Linked DNA regions of Homo sapiens: region 2 is linked to region 1. Evidence: fine-mapped expression QTL. A gene starts in region 1. The other region holds a variant in brackets. All regions are shown on one strand. Distances are between the middles of the regions.

Region 1 (5,389 bases):
GTGCAAGTATCTTCAATATGAAAATTTATATGTTAAGATATCTTGCTTCCATCACTTCCATAGTTAATCATTTTAAATAGTTTTTTGTGTGTGTAACCTTCCAGTGTTTCCTCATGCAAATCAAGTGAATACAATTATATGCCCTTGTATTTCTCTCTTTTGTACAAGAAAAACAGTATACTATATTGCAGTTCCTCACCTGCATTTTCATTTAACAATATATTCTAGATATCTTTTCATATCAGTCCACAGATACATTTCACATACTTTTCTGCAGCTGTATAGTATTATATTGTATAGTTACACCATTGCAAAGACTTCCCCAGTTTGGTTATTTGCATGGATTCACCAGATTCCACAGAGTATATTCATATAGGCATTTACTTAAAGGCAAAGGATATGGTATAGCAAGAGAAAGAGAGTACAGGCGAGCACTGGAGGTCAGAGAGACATCCAATGTGCAAAGAAAGAAGAGCCTTTATTTGCACAAATGGCCATGCTGTGTCACCAGCTTGAGCTACTGATGTCTGTGAGAGAAATCTTTTCTAGAAAGACGTTATAGTGAAATGGCCCAACGGGTTCGCCTTGCCCACTGCCCAGATACAGCTAATGTATCAAGACAGGAGAACTGCTATAGAGAAAGAATTTAATTCACAGACAGCCAGCTAAATGGGAGACTAGAGTTTTATTACTCAAATCGGTCGCCTTGAACATTTGGAGACCAGGGCTTTTAAGGAGAATTTGGTGGGTAGGGATCAAGGAGTATGGAGTGCTGGATGAGTGGATCAAAGATGAAATCATAGGGGCTCAAAGTGGCTTCTTCTTGCTGTCTTCTTTTCCTGGGTGGGATTGCAAAACTGGTTAGGCCAGATTATCAGTCTGGGTGGCACCAGCTGGTATATCAGAACTCAGGGTCCAAAAAACATCTCAAGCACCAATTTTAGATGTTACAATAGTGATGTTATGCCTAGGAGCAACTGGGGAGGTTCAGAATCTTATGGCCTCTAGCTCCATGACTCCCTAAACCAGAATTTCTTGTATTATGGCTAATTTGTTAGTCTTACAAAGACAGTGTGCTCTCTAGGTAAGAAGGAGGTTTATTTCATGAGGGAGTTATTATCATCTTTGTTTCAATGTTAACCTATAAACTAAGTTTCTCTCAAAGCTAGTTTGGCCTATGCTCTGGAATAAACAAGGACAGATTGGAGGTTAGAAGCAAGATGGAGTTGGTTAGGTCAGATCGCTTTCACTGTCATAATTTTCCCACTGTTATAATTTTTGCAAAGGCAGTATCAAAAGGTGAAATTACTAGTAAGTCCAGTTGCAGTTTCAAACCCATAAGTCCAGAAGGCAGGCTGGTAACGCCATGGATTCATAATGACCAGTGACCAGCCCCTGCTGTGCCTCCAGTCCTACCACTTTTCTCTAATGTCTTGCTTTTTCACTATCTGCCACTATTTTCACACCTTCACCACCTTCCTCACTTATAATTTCCTCCTCCTTCCCCCTTGCCTCCTACTTCACAGAGCACACAGAAGTCAGTAATTGGGAACCACTTCAACTTTCCATACCAGACCTATCTTCATCCACACCCATCTTTTCTTCTCTCTGGACACAACAAATAACATGTGCTTCTTGTCCAAGGTCAGTTCACTCACTTAGGTTCTGAATCTTATTCTCTCTAATTTTCTTGGATATCTTATGCTTTTTTTCTTCTTCTTCTTTTTTGAGACGGAGTCTCTCTCTGTCACCCAGGCTAGAGTGCAGTGGCACGATCTTGGCTCACTACAACCTCTGCCTCCCTAGGTTCAAGGGATTCTTCTCCTGTCTCAGCCAGCCAAGTAGCTGAGATTACAGGCATGAGCCACCACACTCGGCTAATTTTTGTATTTTTAGTACAGACGGGGTTTCACCATGTTGGCCAGGGTGGTCTCGAACTCCTGACCTCGTGAAACATTTTCCCCCCGCCCGGCCTCCCAAAGTGCTGAGATTACAGGCATGAGCCACCTCGCCCAGCTATATTTTGCTATCTATTAATCTTACTCTTTCTCACTCTTACTCCAACTTTCTTTCCTCTCCCTCTCTGTCACACTCTCTCTTCTTGTTTAAACATGCTGACGTCTGTAGTTTTTAAAAAGATGCTTCCTTGATCTCCTATGCCTGCCCATCCATTATTCTATCTCCTGTATAGCAAAACTTCTTTAAAGAGTATGTGCTTTTGTTGTCTCTATTTTCTCCCCTGTTACTCTTCAAATTATTCCCAATGAAATTCCAACCCTATCATCTCTTAAAACTTCTCAGTCTAAGATCACTCTAATGTCCACATGTCTAAAGCCAAAGTTCCCACCTTATTTGGCCTCTGCAGCATTCATCACAGCGAATCACTCCCTTCTGTTTGACTTCTGGGACCATCTCCCCTTGGTTGATTCTCTCTTCTCTGGCCCATCTTTTCAGATACTTTCGTTTGCCTTTTCTTCTACCCAAACATTAAATATCGGAGTTCTTCAAGGCCTGGTCTTGGGTCATATTTTCTTCTGACTCTGTGCTCTTTCCCTGAGTGATGCCATCCTGTCCCATAGGTTCAGAAACCACACATATGCTGATGAATCCTGTGTTTATGTCTGCAACCTCAACCCCTGTATCCACTGGCTCCTTGGCATTGGTGTTGACTGTGTCACAGGCTCCTCGGTCTGAACTGGACTCAGTTCTTTCTCTCAACCTTTCACCCCGCAATATCTGCTGCTCTTCCAATTCCTCCAATATTTTCTTTCTTGGGAAATGGTATCTCCCTTCCCACCCCCAGTTGCTCAAGCCAGAAAGTTGGGAGTTAGCCATGTTTCCTCCCTCTTCTTCACTCCTCACATGGAATCAATTGCCAAGTTTATCAGTTTTACCTCCAAGATATCTCTTTAATATTCTCTCCCCTCAGTGCCTCAACACACTCCCCTGCCACGCTAACATCACCCCTGACTTCGTGCCCTGCAGAAGCCTCTTAACTTTTCTCCTGATATAGGATTGCTAATTTCGAGGCCCATCTTATCAACAGGACTGTTTACTCCATGAAGGCAAAGATAAGGGCTGTCCTATTCATCACTTTATTTACTGTTCCTGTTACACTGCTTGGCATAGTATATGCCTAATTAGTCTTTTATAAAATTTGGGAAAGAATATAAGATTCCTGAATTCCAATTAACTACGATTTCACTTTAAGCGAACACATCTTTTACTTAGCCCCAAATCCAAAAGCAAGAAAAAAATCTTCCCAATAATGAGAGCAAAAGATGTCACAAATTTATGTACTTTGCATTACTGCAGTCCTATGAAGATATCTTCAGAACCTTGGAGCACAGGAGGGATATGGATGGGGAAATCATGTTGCTTGCTCCTATCACACAGCTGTTTGGTGGAAGAGTAGTATCTAGAACTCCAGGCTTCCCGCTCCCATTCCAGTCCCTTTTTCCCTCATTGTCACAGATAGGACCTATTAATGCAGCAATATACACAAAATTAATCTTACTGTCCTAAGAACTTTATTTAGCTTCCCCTGGAAATCCTGGAATTCTGCCTAGGTTATAACTATCATTCACCAGGAGCAGCAGGCTATAAACAGGTAGAAGTGGGAGTAGAAACTAGCACACTGAGTAGTAATGAGGTTACCCTGAGTTGTCCAGGACAAAATCAACAGAGGTATTTGGTTATATTCTGCCTACCCTGTTTTAGGAGAATGAAAAATGTAAGATTTTCTCACAGAAATAGTTAACATAAAAAATTGGAGGTGGGGTAGGGTTCTTGCCTACAAAATTTATTTAGGTAGAGCAGTTCATTTTTCCTGGGAATACCTGATAAACTACAAGTTATTGTTTAATGGAAAAAGTTACAAATTCAATGAACAAGTTTTGACAGTCCACTTTCTCCTCTTTGTTCCAACTCTATTTATTACCATGGAAGTTATATCTACTAGCATAGATTCAGCTTCAAGAATGTTATTACTAAGGCCAAGAATCACTTTCAAAAACTAGAGGACTGGAGAAGATAAGATTAATGCATATAATTAAAATGTTTAAATCCAAATTAAATCTATCTTCGAAGATAAAATCAAAAGGTCTATGATTTCCCGTGCTTTTTGGCTGTGATTATGTAATCCATTTTCCAATTATTATCCAATGGCTTTATAACTCATAAGGCTGATTGTTGATTTATATCACGGGTTATTAAAGCATGTATATTTATATATATACCCATATATATATATGGCTAATTTTACCCCACTGTTTTTATTTTCAGCACAACACCACTGCTTCATACATTTTTTTTCTTCCTAGGACTCAGGTTAGCTTTTCTAAGTGTTCACACAGGCTTGAATTAGCAAGAATTATAATTGTTACAACTATATTGAGGTCATAAAGTCCCTACAAACTAGGCAGCTCCACTTTACTTGATCTACTTAGTCTGCAGTTCTGCTCGAAAGGTGCAATTGCATCAATTGCTACATAAGAGATGTTTGGACACTTCTATAGTGCCATGAACATTATAAACTAGAAAAATATGTTCTTAAAAATGTTCTTTGTTACAGAAGCGTTTCTACCTAATCTTTTAACTTTCTTCCTTTCTTTGCAGAAGAAATGCTAAATCTATCGTGCCCACTTCATTAATCATGGAAAAAGAGGCTGGTGATCAGCTTGACAAATTGTAACCAATGTGCTGGTTCTACCAATGTATGTAGCAGAAGAGCATATATATTGCTATCTCATGTGGAGCTCTTATGTGCCACTCACTCTAGCAAGCACTTTAATGTATATGCATTTCATTTACTCCTTAAAACAGTTCTACAGGCCTTTGTTTTTATCTCCATTGAACAAGAATGGAAACTGGGGCTCAATGAGCTTCAGCAATTTGCTTAAAAATACAGAGCTGATAACAGGCAGAGTCAGCATTTAAACCCAGGTCTCTGAGCCCTGCCTGAAGTCCATGCTACTTCCATCACTCAGCATGTGTGATGTTTAGAATCTTTCTGTTTATTCACTAATCTTAAGAATCTTTCTGTTTATTCACTAATGTTTGAAAATGGCATTTAAATGAAGCAAAAAGAAACATTTAAAATGTGCAGAATATATTTATTAAAAAAGAAAGGAAATTTTTCGATATCTTCAAGTTTCATTATTCTTATTGACCTTCTTTGACTGGCTTCCTTTTTCCTTGAAGTTACCTGATTCCAGGCTCTGCCTCAGCCAATCTCCATCTCCAGTTACACTATCAGTTCCACTTTCTCATAACGGCAGCATTCTATATTGGTTTTGTATCACACAGTTAATCTGATGGAGCAGTTTAAAGCATTCTATATTACCAAAGGGGTTATGAAACACAAATGTTGTATCCCATGGCCTTAATA
Region 2 (5,389 bases), 29 kb after region 1:
CTGAAACTTTATAACACAGTAAAAGAGCCAGCCAAAACCCCCCAAAACCAAAATGGCAACGAGAGTGACTTCTGCTCTTCCTCACTGCTACATTCCCACCAGCACCATGACAGTTTACAAATGCCATGGCAACATCAGGAAGTTACCCTATATGGTTTAAAAAGGGGAGGCATGAATAATCCACCCCAAATAACCATAAAAATGGACAACCAGCAGCTCCCGGGGCTGCTTTGTCTATAGAGTAGCCATTCTTTTATTCCTTTACTTTCTTAATAAACTTTCTTTCACTTTGCACCACGGACTAGCCCTGAATTCATTCTTGCACGAGATCCAAGAACCCTCTCTTGGGGTCTGGATCGGGACTCCTTTCTGGTAACAATATGACTAAACATACAGCTGTGCACACACACAGAATAAAAAATCTTGCAAATCAGTATTATTCCACAAAATGTATTGATATTTTCTGTATTATTTTATTCTATTCCATTATTTCATTTTTTAAAAAATATTGGTTAGGACCCACTAAATAGATTGCATAATCCCTTAATCAGTATCTAACACTGGCATTCAAGGAAGAGAGTAGACTCTGAGAAGTGTAGACTGGGATCCAACTGAAAGGGGCTTTAAATGTCAGCCTCTTGACAGCATATGATAAATGCCTCTTAGTAGTTCATAGTTGGTGCCACTGCCATCAGGGCCCTAACAAAGTACAGACTATATACCAAGTGTTTCCCTAGAACTCTGAATTCTCTCTGTCAGTAGTTCTCAACTGAGGTTGGCTTTGCAACCCAGACTCATTCCAATTACCTGCTGCACCCTGACTCATTCCCAATTACCTGCTCCACCCTGATTCATTCCGATTACCTGCTCCACCCTGACTCATTCCGATTACCTGCTCCACCCTGACTCATTCCGATTACCTGCTCCACCCTGACTCATTCCGATTACCTGATGCACCCTGACTCATTCCGATTACCTGCTCCACCCTGACTCATTCCGATTACCTGATGCACCCTGACTCATTCCGATTACCTGATGCACCCTGACTCATTCCGATTACCTGCTCCACCCTGACTCATTCCGATTACCTGCTCCACCCTGACTCATTCCGATTACCTGATGCACCCTGACTCATAGGTGTCATAATAATGTTGGGCAGTGTCTGGAGATATTTTTGCTGTTACGACTTGGAGGGGGGGCTGTTGTTGGCATCTAGTGGGTAGAAACCAGGGATGCTGCTGCTAATCATCCTGCAATGCACAGGACACCCCCCCAACAACGATGAATTATCCAGCCCAAAATGTAAGTGCAGAGGTTGAAAGATCCTGCTCTGGCTGGATCTTCTCTCAGTCAGTTGTGTCCAGCAGTTCAATCTCTTTTGAAATCCTTCCCCAGCTGTGTCCTCCCTGTGCTCCAAAACTATGCCTCTCCTACCTGGTGTAAAACATCACAAGCTCTTATGAATTAGGCTTTTGATAAGTGATGGCTGCATTAAAAAGAGTGTATTATATAGTGAATCTGAAAGTGGTGATTGTGGATATGTGCAAAAGATCATCTTGGCACACGGTGGCCTATTCCAGGTTGCCACTGCCAGACTACTAAACAAGCAAATCTGCAAATTGTTTCAAATCTCCAGAACTACAGGGTAGCTAATTTCTGTCATCTAAACATGCATTTTAGTTTGGTAGATTTTACTGCAATCACATTTAAAGTACATTTAAAGATCATTTGAACAGGGCATAGGTAGTACTGGTCCAGTGAAAACTGAAAAGATAATGACTTCCACATTATAAAGCTGTTTAGAAGCTCTTTTTGTGCAAAAAATAATTTTACCAGTGTCTCTAATCCTATGTGGTCCATTGTAGGGCACTAGAAAGCAGCTTAAAGGTAGAAGGAATAGTCAGTAACCAGCGTCTGTTGTTTCTACAAATAACTAGCATAAAATATACCACATGTATGGGAAATAATATCTAATTAAAGCCAACATGGGACAACTTTCTGGGAGGCCCAGGCCACATTCACAGGGCCAGCTCATTGGAGTGGGGGTAGGGATAGAGTGGTGGTGGCGGTTAGTGTCAAAGGATGGAATATGAAAATAATCTATTTTAGCCTCCATATTGGGGGGAGAGGTCTTTGAAAAACATGAATATGTATTGTTAATAATTCTAGAATAAAGGTTTTTTAGGTTTGTGTATAGTATCTCTTCTGGTTTCATTGGAACATGAAAAGTACCTATAAAAATAAACTCCAGGAAGTGGAAGGTAAACTACAAAGGGAGTTTTAAATGTAAAAATTAGAACCTCTGCCCCTTCAAACTAAAACAGCTTCACTGTGGAAAATACTCTGATCTTAATTTCTGTGCTGCAATATGCAGTCTCTCCCCAACCCTAAGAGAGACTGGCGTAGTGGTGAGGAAAGGTCTTAGCACACCAAAATTCGGGAGCTTGAGTAGTTAAGAACGGTATCAGAGAGAGAAGGTTCCAGATGAGCACGTTCCAAGGAACAAACACTTGAAAGTGAAAAACTATTTACTAACCAGTGACTTGTTCCTTCTGTATTTGTATGGTCTTACTGCTGAGGCAAAGGCATGTAAGTTAAAAAAAAAAAAAGCCACAATTTTATGAAATGCTGAACTTCTTTGTGTTTGGCACATGCTAAGCACTCTATATGGCATGTAATCATCACAATAGTTCTATGAGGTAAGTACCACTGGCATTCCTATTTACAGATGAGAAAACAGACTTACAGAGATTATTTGGTTTAATTAAAAGACCAAACTAGGTTTGGAAATCGTGTTTTGACTCTAGAAGCCATGTAATTAATCACCCTCGGATATGCAGGACATGGAATTCTTTCAAACACTGACAATGGTTTATTTTATGATGGGCTCAAAGTAAAGGGACTTGTTAAGGTGTGGATGGTTGAAACGTTGGATATCAGTGAGTTTCTTTTTATTTTCTTTTTATTTATTTATTTTTTTTGAGACGGAGTCTTGCAGTGTTGCCAGGCTGGAATGCAGTGGCGCGATCTCTGCTCACTGCAACCTCCACCTCCTGGGTTCAAGTGATTCCCCTGCCTCAGCCTCCTGAGTAGCTGGGACTACAGGCGCCCACCACCACGCCCAGCTAATTTTTTGCATTTTTTAGTAGAGACAGGGTTTCACCATGTTGGCCAGAAT[G/A]GTCTCGATCTCCTGACCTCATGATCCACCTGCCTCGACCTCCCAAAGTGCTGGGATTACAGGCCTGAGACACCACACCCAGCCATCAGTAAGTTCCTTTTTATCTTTTTCCCAATCCTATTCATTTTACTAAGCAATCTATTATAGAAGCTAGTTATAACATAGAAATTATATTTCCCAAATCCTGTGATCTTACACAGGCAAGTTACCTAGTATATAATAGGATATATATATATATATATATATATATGCAGTGGGTAACTTGATAGGCTATATATATATATAGTGTGAGGAGGCAGAGTATGTTAAATGTTTTGGTTTTGGCATCTCACTGAGTGAGCTGTATTGTCAGTAGTAGCAGAGTCCTAATGAAATCTGTCTCCAAAATGGCTGTGATTTCCACTAGATGAGCCATTATAGCTACTATTTATGGTACTCTGAAAGACACTCTTTTGGTCAGACTTCAATGAGCTGTGGAGTAACGGTGGATGCAAACTCCTTTCTTTGCCTACTGGTCTCCTGATTTGAGGAGCCAGAAGGACTAGAAGGCAGCTGCAGACTAAAAGCTAATGTGACTCTCGTTCTGCTTGAAAGCAGCATTTCCTTTTTGGGAACCAAGACTTCTATACCCATAGATCCTAGACTTGTGAGGACCAGAAGCACAAATTTCCCAAGTGGATCACTGGGAGAAGTGGGGCCGCTCCTACTTTTACCTCTTGATGCCTCGACTTACGGAGTCTACCTACTGGAGACACAGCACCATATATTTGTTATAATTAGGGTATATGTTACATCCTATAGAATATGTCCCTCTTCACAAGGTATCATCTCCAAGCTGGTGTTCAGGTGTCCCTTTAAAAGGCCATTTCATTACTCTATCAATCTAGCAGCTTCTAGGTTTCGGGGCTTGTGACAAGACCAGTCAATCAGTCTCATTGATCTGTATTCACTGCTGTACCTCCTTTGTTGTAAAGTGAATTCCTTGGTCCTTTGTGAGGTTATGTAGGATCCTAGGTAGGTGGATCAAACCCTTTGTAGGTCCTTGGATAGTGTTGTTGGCTGAGGCCATGCAGCCAGGAAAGGAAAGTTCATATCCAGAATATGTATCAATTCCAGTCAGAATTAATTTGCTCCCTATTCAAGATGGAAGGCATCCAAAGTTACTTGCCACCAAGTGGCTGGTTTCCTCAAGCGAAGGTGCTGAATCAGGGGCTGAGCCTTGCTCTCTGTTACTGGTAGATGGGATATTTGACACAAGCAGTAGCTCAATCAGCCTTGGTGAGCAGAAGCCCCTGCTGTTAGGACCATGTGCAGCCTCCATCCCTGTCACTATGGCTTCTCTACTCAAGTTCCTATTGTGCCAACACTGCAGTGGCCAATAACAGAGGCAGAGTGACATTCTAGTGAGTCTTTCTGTCTATTTGATTGTGTAAGCACCTCTTTGTGATAGATGCTCTCTGTCAGGTAACATACGATTCAGACTTTTCAGATACCAAACAAAAAGAAAGATTGTATTTTCATGCTTATTCCCATAGATTCACCCACATGCCTCCTATCCAAACCTCCTTGTTCCTGATCTTCTGATCCATTAACTAACCAGCCAAGCCATTAGCTATTGCCTATGCTTCCATAAGTACTCTTACCTTGGGCCACTTTTACTTTCATACCCAGTGGATGCCCATGTGCACAACTCAAATGTTCTGCCCATTGGAAGCGTTTCTCCTCACCATTGTCTTACCCAGGAGCTGAGGGAAAGGCATTGGTCAACAGTGGAAAACGAAACTGGGGCCAGGACTTGTGCAGCTAACGTGTGCACTCTGGCCCCATTCTTTCCCATGTACACCACTTCCATCTTAGCAGAGATCTTTGCTGGGTCTGCCTAGCCTTATGATTTTGTGGGCTGGACAGATCTCAGGTCAGTTCTGGAAGCATGATCACTTGTGTCAACCAGGGCGCAGTAGCACCCAAGGAATTGTTTTTCAAATGGTCTATAATTTTCTACTATGGGGGTCATGGCTTGGTTGCAGAATTCTAGGGGGCCTATGTTGTTATTCTCCAACTGGAACATGCCCAGAAACACCACATGACACCCTTTCCCATCACTGACAGCTCTAATATCATTGGGTTTGTTAGGTAGTATGGTCCAAGAGGAAGAATCATTTGCCTCATAGCCTGGACCTACTGCAGAGCCCTTTTTTGTTCTGAGACTCA

Evidence for each region. PIP is the estimated chance that this variant, and not a neighbour inherited with it, causes the effect.
Region 2: its variant is the best candidate, but not a certain one, in a credible set for the expression of LINCADL in visceral fat (GTEx, PIP 0.58).

What each region holds. Positions count from the first base shown.
Region 1 is chr5:115,953,879-115,959,267 of GRCh38, reverse strand. It overlaps LINCADL (lincRNA adipogenesis and lipogenesis associated), which reads right to left and starts at 2,697. Exons shown (of 2, transcript NR_157226.1): 1 at 2,348-2,697; 2 at 667-839.
Region 2 is chr5:115,924,575-115,929,963 of GRCh38, reverse strand. No RefSeq gene overlaps it. Among named protein-coding and RNA genes, the nearest start is that of LINCADL, 29 kb to the left of the region's middle. RefSeq lists an enhancer at 1-11. The variant G/A (reference allele first, on the strand shown) is at 3,179.